Homo sapiens: one gene and its partner. The protein of the gene in region 2 interacts with the protein of the main gene of each other region in a pairwise test. Each region holds a gene or a part of one and is shown on either strand. Other genes may lie near its edges.

Region 1 (3,500 bases), on a different chromosome or scaffold from region 2:
GGCTAACACGGTGAAACCCCATCTATACTAAAAATACAAAAAATTAGCCGGGCGTAGTGGTGGGCGCCTGTAGTTCCAGCTACTCAGGAGGGCTGAGGCAGGAGAATGGCATGAACCCAGGAGGCAGAGCTTGCAGTGAGTTGAGATTGCACCATTGCACTTCAGCCTGGGCGACAGAGCGAGACTCCGTCTCAAAAAAAAAAAAAAAGATGGGGTCTTGCTATGTTGCCCAGAGTGGTCTGAAACTCCTGGTTTCAGGCAGTCCTCCTGCCTTGGCCTCCCAAAGGGCTGGGATTACAGATATGAGCCACCATACCTGGCCTGTTTTTTTGTTGTTGTTGTTTTTGAGAAAGAGTTTCGCTCTTGTTGCCCAGGCTGGAATGCAGTGGCGTGATCTCGGCTCACTACAACCTCCACCTCCCAGGTCCAAGAGATTCTCCTGCCTCCCAAGTAGCTGGGACTACAGGTGCCCACCATCACACCCAGCTAATTTTGTGTATTTTTAGTAGAGATGGGGTTTCACCATGTTGGCCAGGCTGGTCTCGAACTCTTGACCTCAGGTGATTCACCCGCCTCAGCCTTCCAAAGTGCTGGGATTACAGGCGTGAGCCACAGCACCTGGCCTGTTGTTTTAAATAAACCAGCTTTACTGAGATATCATTCACAATTTACTCATTTAAAGTTTACACTTTACTGTACAACCATCACCACAACCAATTTTAGAACATTTTCATCACCCCATGAAGAAATTCTGTACTCAAGGCCAGGCACGGTGGCTCAAGTCTTTAATCCCAGCACTTTGGGAGGCCAAGAGGGAAGGATCACTTAAGGCCGGGAGTTTGAGACCAGCCTGAGCCACATAGTGAGACCCTGTTTCTACAAAAAATTTAAAGAATTCGCGGCTGGGCACGGTGGCTCACACCTGTAATCCCAGCACTTTGAGAGTCCGAGGTGGGTGGATCATGAGGTCGGGAGATTGAGACCATCCTGGCTAACATGGTGAAACCCCGTCTCTACTAAAAATACAAAAAATTAGCCGGGCGTGGTGGTGGGCACCTGTACTCCCAGCTACTCGGGAGGCTGAGGCAGGAGAATGGCGTGAACCTGGGAGGCAGAGGTTGCAGTGAGTGGAGATCACGCCACTGCACTCCAGCCTGGGCAACAGAGCAAGACTCTGTCTCACAGGTGGTGCACACCTGTGGTCCTAGCTACTCAGAAAGCTGAGGTGGGAGGATCATTTGAGTCCAGGAGTTTGAGACTGCAGTGAGCTATTACCAAGCCATTGCACTCCAGCCTAGGTGACAGAGCAGGATCTCATCTCTAAAGACAATTTAAAAAGTTAAAAATTTAAAAATTAAGCTGAGCGCAGTGGCTTATGGGTGTAATCCTAGCACTTTGGCAGGCCGACGCGGGCAGATCACCTGAGCTCAGGAGTTCAAGACCAGCCTGGTCAACATGGCAAAACCCATCTCTACTGAAAAAAATACAAAAATTAGCTGGACATGGTGGTGCACACCTGTAATCTCAGCTACTTGGGAGGCTGAGGCACTAGAATCACTTGAACCCAGGAGGCAGAGTTTGCAGTTAGCTCAGATAGCGCCACTACACTCCAGACTAGGTGACAGAGCAAAACCCTGTCTCAAAAAAAAAAAAACAACAACAAACAACAACAACAAAAAATTAAAGAAACCCTGAACTCAGTAGCAGACACTCCCTGTTCCTCCTAGCAGCCCCACACCACCTGCTGGGTGACAATTCTTGTGCCCTTGTTTTCCCCCAAGTCTGCACAACAGGGGTCACAGGGAGTTGAGGAAGAGGAGGGGTCTCTGACAACACATGGAGACTTCTCAGCAGCTCTTCGTCCAGGTCTGCAAGGAACAAATCCAGTCCCAAAGACACCAGGTCCCAGAAGCCAAAGCCTGAAATGAGGCCAGCAGGAGGCAGCCTTTGGCTCTGTCTTTTGCCAGATGGGCTGGATGGGGAGGCGAAGCTTAGGATGGGGGATCTGGGGGACAGGCAGTGTGGGGAGTGACTCTGGCTGCTCCAGGCACAGCCAAGCTAGCTGTGCTTGGCTTAGCTTCCTGCCTTCAAATCTGCAAATGGTGAGTTTTCTTTTTTTTTTTTCTTTTTTTTTGAGACAGGAGTCTCGCTCTGTAGCCCAGGCTGGAGTGCAATGGCGCGATCTCGGCTCATTGCAACCTCCTCCTCCCGGGTTCAAGCAGTTCTTCTGCCTCAGGCTCCCGAGTAGCTGGGATTACAGGCGCACACCACCACATTGCCTAATTTTTGTATTTTTAGTAGAGACAGAGTTTTCCCATGTTGGCCAGGCTGGTCTCGAACTCCTGACCTCAGGTGATCCACCCACCTCGGCCTCCCAAAGTGCTGAGATTACAGGCGTGAGCCACCGCACCCAGCCCCACGAAGGGTTAGTCTTCTCTGCCTGCTGAGCTAGACTGGCATGGGAGTATTGGGGCCTGCAGGAAATGGCCCACTCCTGGCTGCTCTGCCTCGATCCTGGAGTTCTGGGATGCCCCTGTCCCCCAGGGCCTGGCACCCCCACGCTGTTCACCCCTGCCCCCTAGGTCTCCTGTTCAGGCTTCCATCACACCTCTGTCTGCCCCCTGGGTGTCCCTGTAGGACTCACGCCTCTGCCCGATCCACCATGGTCCTAATGAGCTCCCAGAGGAGGCCCGAGAGCGTGGAGCAGGTCTGCCGCATCCACAGCCTGAGGTCTGTGACCACCTGTGCAAGGAGGAGATGGTGCTCAGGGAGGCCGATGTGTTGCTTCCCTGAGGAGCCAGGACCGCTGCAGAACTCTAACTGCCCCCTGGGCTCCTCAAGGTTGGGACAACACGGAGCAGGGGGTGGAGGGGCTAAAGCACCTGGTCATTCCGGCTCCGTCCCGTGTGCAGCTTCCCTGCCGTTGCACCAATGAGCTCCTGGAGGTGAAGGGAGACCCAGGGTCACGGTCTATACCCCCAGAGGAGTCAACCCAGGCAGGGCAGTTTTCCTCATCAGCCCTGCCAACCTACCTCCATACCCCAGGGCTCCGGGTCCTCCCCAAATCTCTCGCCATTTCTGCTGAGGCCTGTTCTTTTTTTCTTTTCTTTTTTTAATTTTTGTAGCTGTGGGACCTCATTATGTTGCCCAGGCTGGTCTCGAACTCCTGGTCTCAAGCAATCCTCCCACCTCAGCCTCCCAAAGTGCTAGGATTATAGGCATGAGCCAGGGTGCCTGGCTCATGTCCTGAGGTCTCACATGCTGTCTGCCAATGGCGAAGTAAACAGAATGGTGCTAATGCTCAAAGTGGCCCTGGGCAAGGTGGAGAGGGGAGGCAAGGAAAGCGGTGGGGCTCCAGGGGTCGTACCTTCAGGCGGCGCTCATTGGCTGTGTGGATGTCCTCATCATTGGAGTTCAGTTTGAAGGTGCCCTGGGCCCACTCCTCAGCCACCTGTAGTGGGTAGCAGCAATGCCGGGGTCAGGTGAGCAGGCATCAGCAG
Region 2 (5,112 bases):
TCCCACCAACAGGCATCACTTTCTTCTAATGTGGACCTTCTACTAAGCTCTTCTCTGGCTGACCAGCACAGCTCTTGGGTTCTGCAGTGGTCCCCTGTGGCAGGACAGCACTCATCAGTATGAGAAGGGAGATACCATGAGCTCCACGAGCTAAATAGTAGAAGTGAGGGGGCACTAAAAGGTACAGTTTAGCGGTGAGGTAATGCCCCTCCAGTTTGAGCAGCTCAGGTTCTGGCTCAATACTGATGAGGCTTTGGGATGTCTTGTTCTTCCAGTCCCAGCCTATCCCACCCCTGACACCTGGCCAACTCTTACTCATCTTTCCATTCTTAGAATTTCCAGGTCACTTTTTCAGAGAAGACTAATGACCAAGTACCACCCTCCGCCCTACCAAATCAATATGCACATATAAACTTAGGTCACCAGGATATATGCTTTACAGCTCTCTTCATAACAATTATCACTTTGCAGCTAAATAACTGTTAAATATCGGTGTCCCCTTCTAAGGATGTAAGCCTCGCATGGCATAAGGACTGCATCTGTTTTGTTTGCTGCTGCACTTGCAGCACTGATATGGCATTTGGCACATAGTAGGCATTCAACAAATGAATGAACTCCCCAGCTCAATCTCAGACCTGAACTGGACATCTCCACTTGAATGCCGCATAGCTATCTCAAACATCTGCAAAAGTGAATTCATCAACTTAAACCTGGGCCTGCTCCTGAATGGCAACACCATCTACCCAGTCCACAAAGTCCTGCCATTCTTGACATTTGACGATTTAGCAAAATCTGCCATTCTTGCTTCCTTAATATCTCTAGAATCTGCTGGTGTCCTAGTTTGGTCCTTAACATCTCTCTCCTATACCATGGTATCTGAAAGTAGATCCCTGACTTCAGGGATCTCACAGTCTAGTGGGGGAGAAAGACTTAAACCAAAATAAAACAAAACAAAACCAGACAAAAACAAAAACAAACCAGTGATTCCAGTAAAGTATGAAAAGTACTATAGCAAAAGGCTGAGGGAACTGAGAAGAATGTGATTTAACATTCTGCCTAAGGGAATGAGGGAGTTTTCACAGAAGAGCTGATAAAACTGGAAGCTTAGACAATTACACAAGGACATAATATATACAAATCAAATTATTAATTCAGAATCACAAAATGTTTTTTGTCTTCTGTCAACTGATGCTGGTTCCACTCAGTGAGGTCTGCCTCATCCTCCACCATAGAAGTGTCCAAAAGAGAAAACGGTCATGTCGTGAGGACCCCAATCCCCATGTACTGAGAGGAGGAGGGGGATCAGACCTCATCAGGGAGCCCAGCCCATGCCAGCCCTAAGGACTCCAGAGTAAGAGAAGCAGAAATTCAACTTAGAAATCTGAGCCAGGCTCCTAGCAGTGGCGACATAGAGGGCAGGTGGAAGTAGAAGCAAGAGGAGGACTGCTATAGAAGTAGCAGGTGTTTGGAAGAGAGTGGAGCTATACCAGGTGTTCCCTCTCAATTCCCCACTCTGAAACAATGGGGAGGCCAGGTGCAGTGGCTCATGCCTGTAATCCCAGCACTTTCAGAGGCCAAGGCAGGAGGATAGCTTGAGCCTAGGAGTTCCAGACCAGCCCAAACAATATAGTGAAACCCCGTCTTTACTAAAAATAAAAATAAAATAAAATAAATTAGCCAGGTATAGTGGCATGCGCCTGTAGTCCCAGCTACTCGGGAGGCTGAAGTAGGAGGATTGCTTGAGCACAGGAGGTCAAGGCTGCAGTGAGCTGTGATCATAGCACTGTACTCCAGCCTGGACAACAGAGACCCTGTCTCAAAAAAAAAAAAAAAAACTATGAGGAAGTTCAGCCCCCTCACCAGGACAGACAAAGTGGCACTTGTTTTTCTGTGCATGTGAGCAGTGAGCACACCTGTGTGTGTGCACAACAGAGAAGGGGTCCCAAATCTCAACTTTTATGCCAGGAAGCATTCCCAGCCTAGGGAGTTGGAAAGGAGCTGGAAGGTGTAACTGAGTAGGGAACTGAGCACCACCTCATTACTCCCCCGCAATCCCCTCCTCACTATCCAGGCTGGGCCCAAATGCCTTCCTGTGCTGCACAGGGCCTCTCCATTCCTCTGCTCTTAGAAATAGGGTAGGAGTAAAGGACGACTGGACAGAACTGGGAATATGGCCACAGAAGAGTCCCTTGCACTTTTAGACTGTTAGGTGAAAAGCAGGGGTCAGAGAGTAGCCGTCACTGAGGGAAAGGACCTTAGCAGAGCTGGATCGATGACATGAGTACTCAAGCAGGGTCAGGAAGTTTAAACGTATAGGTGTTTAGAAGTAAGGATCTTCAGCGAAAAGTTTTGCTACCCAGTAAAATGTTTCGAAGAAGTAAAGTGCATGGTAGTTAGAAACAATCCCCTATAGGATAAAATCAAAATTCCACACTCCATCTCCAAAACCAATTACAATCTGACCTCAGCTACCCCTGGCTTCTAATAGTAATCTACCTCCAGGCCTGCTGGGCTCCTTCCAGTTCCCTGAACCACCTCCTCCAGCACTTTCCCACCTGCTTGCCTTTGTTTACAGCCTCCACCTGGACGATGATATTTTTAACAATAGCTAACATCAGAAGTTTCACTAGATGTCAAGTATAGTACATCATTTAACACTCCCCGCAACCCTATCAGATATACTTTTCCTAATTTTACACATGAGTTAACTGAAGCTCAAAGAGGTCATGTGACTTGTTAGTATGTGACAGAGCTAGGATTCAAGCTCAGGTGTCTGGTTTCAGAGCCTGAGCTTTTAACTGCTCTGCTGTGTCAACTACCCTGGTGCCCACTGTACTAGGCTCTGAGCTTTTACTACAAGAAACAGAGGGAAAAAAAGGCACATTTCCTGGCTTTGAAAAGGAGCTCACAGTGCAGCAGAAACCATGTTCATTCAGTGCGGTTGATGCCATAATCAGGTGTATGAGGTTATGGGAGAGGCAGTGGGAGGACCACCTGCTACAACTTCTAGCCACTGAAAGATACCCCCTTTGGCCAAGATACCCCTATGCAACTGTCTAGCCAACCTGATAACTGCAGAGACTCCAGACAGACTACATACATTCAGGAGCCAGGCATGCATGTTGGAAGACACGGAGGGCAGGCCACCAGGAGAAAAAGGGAGAAAGTAAGAGGCTCAAGGAGAGGCAGAAGGAAAGGAGGAATGAGCCAGATCTTTGCAGTCCAGGAGCTGACCTGCCCTAAGCCATGGCCTACAAAGTAGAGGCTACAAGCATAGTAAACTCTGGTTTCTGACTGAAGGTGCTGGTTACAGTTGTGGCCTATGGGAATGGGGTGGCTGGTGGGTGCGTAAGGGGTGATCCTTTGATTCACTGCTCTTAAGGAACGGTACTATCTGTAGGGTTCCATCTTCCAGGAGGTGACCTGTACATTCTATCTTTTCAGTAGCCTGTAGCTTGAAAACTCTTATTTTGGTGGTGGAGGAGAGCGGTAAAGGTGCTTACCTGAATACACTGGTTGTTGCTGTCTGCTACCACGATGCGGCCGCTGCTGGCTGCGGACACACCTTGTAAATTGGTGAATTCACCTTTCTCCCTTCCACGACTGCCTGTGGGAAGGGACAGGAGGGAAAACAAAATAATTCATTCAGAGGTCATCTTGAACCTCCCTTCCCTCCCCACCCACTACCTGAGCCTGGCCCATCTGGCTCTGCCCTCGGCTGTCTGTACCAACACGGAAGACGAGCTCATCCTCAATTGGGTTGTCCTTTCGTTTGCCGCCTGTGCTGTACATGGAGCTGGGCCTACGCACTGCCTTCTGGCGCACATGGCTGCCGGGGCCGCCAGGGGACTTGACACGGCGCTTCACATCGTCCGGGGAAGGTGGCAGGTCCCCCGGACGCAGGGCACGCACGCGGAAGGGGCTGCCGCGCACTGGCTGTCCGTAGAGCAGCACCGAGAGGAGCAGCTCGCCTTCCGTGCGCGCTGTGTACACTAGCTCATATGTGCCATTCTTGTGGTCCACCACTGGCACCGGAAGGCGCGTGCCGTCCGGGCCGGTGATCTCTGCACGCAGCTCAGCGCTGCCTGTGCGCACCAACCGCCCGTCCTTGTCTTTGGTAGTGACAGTGAGCGAGGCAGGCTGGCCCACTAGCGCCTGGCGCAGGCCCTCTCCCGTGGCCACCGTTTCGTGTGCAGTGGCGCTCGTGGTGAGCAGTGCGCCCAGATTGAGCACCGATCGCCGCAGACCGTCCACCTCAAGGACCAGTTCCAGCTGTGCATTCTCATGTGGCCGCTCCGGGAAGGCCTGTGCCGCCAATGCAGCCAGCCGCTCTCGCATGTGCTTGCGCACCAGCAACACCTCCGGGGCCGAGCCCAGGCGCAGTGCCTGCTCTGCAAAGCTGCAGCTACTGCCGATGTGTTCCTGACCCTGGCGCAGTGTGTCCAGCTGGCTTTGCAACACCTGATGAGGGGTAGGGGAGGAGTGGGTGAGCAGACTGGCACAGGGGGAGTCTCTGTGATTACTGAAGTTGTAGCACTGTGGCATAAAATACAAGAGGGTGCCTGTGGACAGAGGACACAGATGCCCACAGCACCTACCGAGGGCATGTCAGGAGGCAGAATATCTAGGCTGGGGAATGGGGAGCTGGTGTGGAAGACAGAGGAACAATGGAGGCAATAACACCATCACAATGGACGATGGTAGGAAAGGGTGAACACAAGACACACCTTCTGTTTGGCCCCACAAATGGTCTCCAGGTCGCTGACCAGAGCCTGCTTGCGCTGCTGCAGTGCTTGCTCCAGGTCCTCGAACGCTGCACTGATCTGGGCCAGGGCCTCTGCCTTGCGCTCCTGCAGCTGCTGGCTGATGCCCCCGACTAAGGCAATTGCTGCGGACAGCTGTGGCAATCTGGAGGGGGAATATCTCATTCCAGAGTTGCTGAGGGTGGCTTTGCCGAACTTTCCCTTCTCCCTGGGGAACCTACTGCTGCCCTCATGGAGATCTCCTTCCTGAGACCTCCCTGAGACTTCCATCTCTGCCCTTCCCAGACCCTTTATTCCCCTCCCCGCCCGAGCTAAGACACCATCCCTGTGGCCCCACCAGCCCAGGACC

What was found.
Region 1: the proteins of TRIM3 (region 2) and ASL interact in a two-hybrid assay, tested with the Homo sapiens proteins (one large-scale study listed by BioGRID and IntAct).

The regions. Positions count from the first base shown.
Region 1 is NC_000007.14:66,082,319-66,085,818, reverse strand, and holds part of ASL (argininosuccinate lyase), read right to left. Parts: intron 3,452-3,500; coding exon 3,368-3,451; intron 2,940-3,367; coding exon 2,883-2,939; intron 2,743-2,882; coding exon 2,645-2,742; intron 1-2,644.
Region 2 is NC_000011.10:6,452,569-6,457,680, forward strand, and holds part of TRIM3 (tripartite motif-containing protein 3), read right to left. Parts: intron 4,909-5,112; coding exon 4,728-4,908; intron 4,462-4,727; coding exon 3,729-4,461; intron 3,608-3,728; coding exon 3,504-3,607; intron 1-3,503.